2 separate regions of the Homo sapiens genome follow, and region 2 is linked to region 1. Evidence: fine-mapped expression QTL. A gene starts in region 1. The other region holds a variant in brackets. All regions are shown on one strand. Distances are between the middles of the regions.

Region 1 (2,897 bases):
GAAGAGAGGGAGGTCAGTGAGGCTAGAACTATCTGGGGACCATCTGTGAGGAGGGGCAGGGGAGAGGGCCGAGGAAACAGCAGGAACAAGCAGGCTGGCTAGTGTTCTTCCTATCAGACACAGTCAATGCTTGTCACTTGCTATTAATTCTGGGTGGGTGGGGACAGTAGGAAACAGGGAAAGTGCCCTGGGATAAGGAGACCCAAATTCTAGTCCTGGGCTTACCACTTTCTAGCTGGGTAGCTCTGGGTAAGTCCTTAGGTAATGCAAACCTCAATTTCCTCACCTCTGTAATGGGACCATAACCTCTTTCTTGCAGGTTTGTGGTGAGCATTGAAACATGTGAAATGTTTTTAAAAAGCGCTTTGGGCCGGGCGCGGTGGCTCACGCCTGTAATCCCAGCACTTTGGGAGGCCAAGGCAGGTTGATCACCTGAGGTCAGTAGTTCGAGACCAGCCTGGCCGACATGGTGAAACGCTGTCTCTACTAAAAATACAAAATTAGCCGGGCATGGTGGCAGGTGCCTGCAATCCCAGCTACTTGGGAGGTTCAGGCAGGAGAATCGCTTTAACCCAGAAGGCAGAGGTTACAGTGAGCTGAGACCGCGCCTTTGCACTCCAGCCTGGGCAACAAGAGCGAAACTCCATCTCAAAAAAAAAAAAGGGCTTTACATTTTCTTTTTCATTGCCTCGATCGTCCTATAGGGTGGTGAGAGTGTGTGTGTGTGTGTGTGTGTGTGTGAGAGAGAGAGAGAGAGAGAGAAGCACTTTGAGGTTAGGTTAGGAGAGTTCTTTTGAGAAGACAAAGGTTTCACTTCCACAAACATTTTCTTAGCATGCACTTTGTGCTGCTGAGGATTGAGATGAAAAAACTCAGTCTGTGTCCTCAAGGACCTCATGGTCTACTAGGAGAGACATGAATAAAGAGATGCTCAGTGCATTATGGATGTGGGTGGGTACAACGAAGAGGGGACCCAGTGCTGTGTGTGTGTGTGTGTGTGCGCGCGCGTGTGTCCAGGCAACTTCCACTCCTTCCAATCAGTGCAGATAGGAAGGTAGGTTTGTCAAACCTTTCCCTAGCCTGGGATGTTGTTGGCGCGTCTCCTCCCCAGTTCTCAGGAGTGAGGAGGAGAGCAGAAACCCCCCTCCCCGCCCCCGGGCCAACCTGCCTCCCGCTAGCCGGCCGGGCGCCTTACCGAGTCAGACCACTGGGAGGCTGGGGGAGCCGGGTTGGGCGAGGAGGCAAGCGAGATGGGGGAGCTCTTATTTTGACAGGGGCCTCTCCGGGCTCTGGTATGAAGGCAGAAGGAGGCAGCCAGAGAGCCCCGATGCTTATTCAGGCTGGGGAGTGGAGCCGAGTGGAGGGGCAAGCGAGGCTCCGGCAGCGCAGGGGAGCCCGGGGAGGCGGCGGCGCGCGGCGGAGCCAGTGGCTGGACATGCCCCGGACCCGGGGCCGCTGCACCACCGCCGCCGCCCGGAGCCAGCCGGCCGGACGCCCGCACGCCTGGGTCCCCCGGCGCCGCGCCGCCCGGGGGCTGTGACCCGGACCCTCGGAGTCCGACCAACAATAAGCGCCCAGACAGCCCCTCCCCACCCAGCGCCCGGCATTCCCGCGGGCTTTGGGGAAAGGAAAGGAGAGGCGAGGAAGGAAGGAAGGAAGCAAGCAAGCAAGCAAGGGAAGGAGGAGCAGGAGCAGGAGCCGGAGCCCTGAGGTTCGGGGCCGAGACCCCGGCCCCGCGCCCCGGCCCCGGCGGGTGTGCGCGCTCTCCCGCCACTGCCCGGCGCCCGCGACCATGCTCCGCGGTTGGGAGGCAGGAACCCAGGCACCCAGCGATCCCCGGATAGCCTCTCCCGGGCCGGGCTGGTATTGAGATCAAGGCGTCCAGGATCAAAAGATCACCGCCTGCCCGCCCCCTCTGCATCTCCAACTGGCGAGCAGGAGGACCCCCATCCACACAACGACCCTGACCTGGTCATGGCGTCCAGCTCCGGCCTGGCGTGAGGACCCCCCAATCCGCGTGAGGTGAGGGGTGGGCTGGGGGCAAGGCGAAAGTCATGCCAGGCCAGCAGAGGCGCGAGGAGGGAGATCCAGTTTGAATCGGGGAGGGGAAACACAGTCTGATTGTCTCTTGCTCTCTGGCACGTACCCCCAGGCTGTTTAAGGTGTGGGGGACTCCCCCAGGGTCAGTGGAGGCTACTCTTAAGCCCCCAATCAGGTTGGCAGCTCCAGAACACCGTGGGGAGGGCTTAGGGACAGCCAGGGGACCCTGCCACCCTAGCGCAGAGAACAAGGCCGGCCTTGGGCCAGCTGGAGCAGCGAACCTTGCCCTGGGGGCTTCTGGGAGATGTAGTCCCCCTCCCAGGCTCACCAACCCCGTGGGTCTCAGCACCCCAGCCCTCCTCCTCTGGCTGATAGGAGCCTCCAGAAGGAGGTGGGTTGGGACTGGGGAGAGCTGGGGGTCACCCTTTTCTCCCAGGCACTGCCTGTGAGTAGCGGGGGCTGTGACTGAGGAGTCTCTTCTTCCAAGGCTTCTGAGTGATGTGGGCTTGGCTGGGGGGTGGGGCAGTCATACAGTTCCTTGGAAGTGTCCCTGCGCTGCTAAGGGGAGGTGGCCCCTGTCTTGATCCAAAGGAACCCTCGGGGAAGAATGTAGGAAGAGAAGTGAGCTTAGGCTTCTTGTTGCGCTGGGGTAGGTCCTATTCCAGGGCTGCTGGAATTTGGTTTCAGAAGAGACAGAGGGCTGCTCTCTCCTTCTGAGAAGGATAGTGTCCCTTGAAGTCTAGGAGTCTGGAGGGTGTCTCTCTGGAGCAATGAAGCTAGGATCAGCTACTGTCTGTCTGTCCAGCTTCCTTCCTTCCGGGTTTTTCTGACACCCCCTCTCTCCCTTCTCTTTCTGT
Region 2 (2,897 bases), 24 kb after region 1:
ACGTTCCTCCCAGGGTGTGTTGATGAGATGAAATCACACCTGTTAAGTCCCCAGCAGAATGCCAGGCCCATGGGAGCCTGTGGAGAGGACACATTTTCTCTGTCCCTGCTCTCCACATGGTCACCACTCTTGCCATCGTGGAAACCAGCCTGGTGAGAACACCAGATACTGACATCAAATGTCCCTGTGGGCACGAGCTGTAAGGCTGTGAGCATCAGTGGGAGGGGGCATCAGCTGGTCCTTCTTGTATCTAGACCACTTAGCCCCTTTCCCTGTCCTCTCTCCTGCAGATTGTAATGTAGCAGACCCAGCCATGGCGGCCCCACAGCTGGGTCCCGGCCAAACCACCCAACTGCCCCTCAGCGAGAGCAGCGTGCCAGGCGCCCCGCACGGCCCTCCTCCTGGCCTTCGGCCTGATGCCCCTGGGGGCGGGGGCGGGGGCGGGGGCGTCCCCGGAAAGCCTCCCTCGCAGTTCGTATATGTCTTCACCACCCACCTGGCCAACACGTAAGTGCCTGGTGGGCAGGCCAAGTCTCTCTCTCTCTCTGCCCAGCACCTCTCAGCCTGGGGTTCCGAGGGAGCCCCGTGCAGGGGCAGGGTGGGGTGGGTGAGGGTGGGGCTCCCTCCTGCTCACCTCTCTGAGCTGTCGGTGCCCCCACTCTGTGCAGGGCTGCAGAGGCAGTGCTGCAGGGCCGGGCCGACTCCATCCTCGCCTACCACCAGCAGAACGTGCCCCGGGCCAAGCTTGACCAGGTGAGCGTGGCGCCTCTGTGAGCAGCAGGACTGGGTGGAACGTCCCCTTACCTGTCTCATGCTCTCTTTGTCCTTCTGCAGGCCCCTAAAGTGCCCCCCACCCCAGAACCGCTACCCCTGAGCACGCCGTCAGCAGGCACCCCGCAGTCCCAGCCACCTCCACTGCCGCCGCCGCCACCCCCGGCCCCTGGCAGTGCCCCGCCTGCTCTGCCCCCAGAGGGGCCTCCTGAGGACAGCAGTCAGGACCTGGCCCCCAACTCGGTGGGAGCTGCCAGCACAGGTGGTGGGACTGGGGGCACCCACCCTAACACCCCGACGGCTACCACCGCCAACAACCCTCTGCCTCCTGGAGGAGACCCCAGCAGTGCCCCCGGCCCTGCCCTGCTGGGGGAGGCAGCCGCCCCTGGAAATGGGCAGCGCAGCCTGGTGGGCTCAGAGGGCTTGTCCAAAGAGCAGCTGGAGCATCGGGAACGGTCCCTCCAGACGCTGCGAGACATTGAGCGACTGCTGCTCCGCAGCGGAGAGACTGAGCCCTTCCTCAAGGGGCCCCCAGGAGGAGCGGGTGAGGGGGGCCCACCAGCACAAGCCCCCCCTCCCCCCCAGCAGCCACCCACGGCCCCTCCCAGCGGGCTGAAGAAATATGAGGAACCCTTGCAGTCCATGATTTCACAGACACAGAGCCTAGGGGGCCCCCCGCTGGAGCATGAAGTGCCTGGGCACCCCCCGGGTGGGGACATGGGGCAGCAGATGAACATGATGATACAGAGGCTGGGCCAGGACAGCCTCACGCCTGAGCAGGTGGCCTGGCGCAAGCTGCAGGAGGAGTACTACGAAGAGAAACGGCGGAAAGAGGAACAGATTGGGCTGCATGGG[A/G]GCCGTCCTCTGCAGGACATGATGGGCATGGGGGGCATGATGGTGAGGGGGCCCCCGCCTCCTTACCACAGCAAGCCTGGGGATCAGTGGCCACCTGGAATGGGTGCGCAGCTGCGGGGGCCCATGGATGTTCAAGATCCCATGCAGCTCCGGGGCGGACCTCCCTTTCCTGGGCCCCGTTTCCCAGGCAACCAGATACAACGGGTACCTGGGTTTGGGGGCATGCAGAGTATGCCCATGGAGGTGCCCATGAATGCCATGCAGAGGCCCGTGAGACCAGGCATGGGCTGGACCGAAGACTTGCCCCCTATGGGGGGACCCAGCAATTTTGCCCAGAACACCATGCCCTACCCAGGTGGGCAGGGTGAGGCGGAGCGATTCATGACTCCCCGGGTCCGTGAGGAGCTGCTGCGGCACCAGCTGCTGGAGAAGCGGTCGATGGGCATGCAGCGCCCCCTGGGCATGGCAGGCAGTGGCATGGGACAGAGCATGGAGATGGAGCGGATGATGCAGGCGCACCGACAGATGGATCCTGCCATGTTTCCCGGGCAGATGGCTGGTGGTGAGGGCCTGGCGGGCACTCCCATGGGCATGGAGTTTGGTGGAGGCCGGGGCCTCCTGAGCCCTCCCATGGGGCAGTCTGGGCTGAGGGAGGTGGACCCACCCATGGGGCCAGGCAACCTCAACATGAACATGAATGTCAACATGAACATGAACATGAACCTGAACGTGCAGATGACCCCGCAGCAGCAGATGCTGATGTCGCAGAAGATGCGGGGCCCTGGGGACTTGATGGGGCCCCAGGGCCTCAGTCCTGAGGAGATGGCCCGGGTTCGGGCCCAGAACAGCAGTGGCGTGATGGGCGGCCCGCAGAAGATGCTGATGCCTTCACAGTTTCCCAACCAGGGCCAGCAGGGATTCTCTGGAGGCCAGGGACCCTACCAAGCCATGTCCCAGGACATGGGCAATACCCAAGACATGTTCAGCCCTGATCAGAGCTCAATGCCCATGAGCAACGTGGGCACCACCCGGCTCAGCCACATGCCTCTGCCCCCTGCGTCCAATCCTCCTGGGACCGTGCATTCAGCCCCAAACCGGGGGCTAGGCAGGCGGCCTTCGGACCTCACCATCAGTATTAATCAGATGGGCTCACCGGGCATGGGGCACTTGAAGTCGCCCACCCTTAGCCAGGTGCACTCACCCCTGGTCACCTCGCCCTCTGCCAACCTCAAGTCACCCCAGACTCCCTCACAGATGGTGCCCTTGCCTTC

Evidence for each region. PIP is the estimated chance that this variant, and not a neighbour inherited with it, causes the effect.
Region 2: its variant is fine-mapped to the expression of BCL9L in whole blood (TOPMed, PIP 0.90).

What each region holds. Positions count from the first base shown.
Region 1 is chr11:118,924,363-118,927,259 of GRCh38, reverse strand. It overlaps BCL9L (BCL9 like), which reads left to right and starts at 1,334. Exons shown (of 10, transcript NM_001378213.1): 1 at 1,334-2,022. RefSeq lists silencers at 210-269, 1,090-1,229, 1,430-1,479 and enhancers at 1,675-2,176, 2,548-2,617, 2,846-2,897.
Region 2 is chr11:118,900,846-118,903,742 of GRCh38, reverse strand. BCL9L (BCL9 like) reads left to right here. Exons shown (of 10, transcript NM_001378213.1): 6 at 291-507; 7 at 669-753; 8 at 835-2,897. Among named protein-coding and RNA genes, the nearest start is that of MIR4492, 8.4 kb to the left of the region's middle. The variant A/G (reference allele first, on the strand shown) is at 1,627.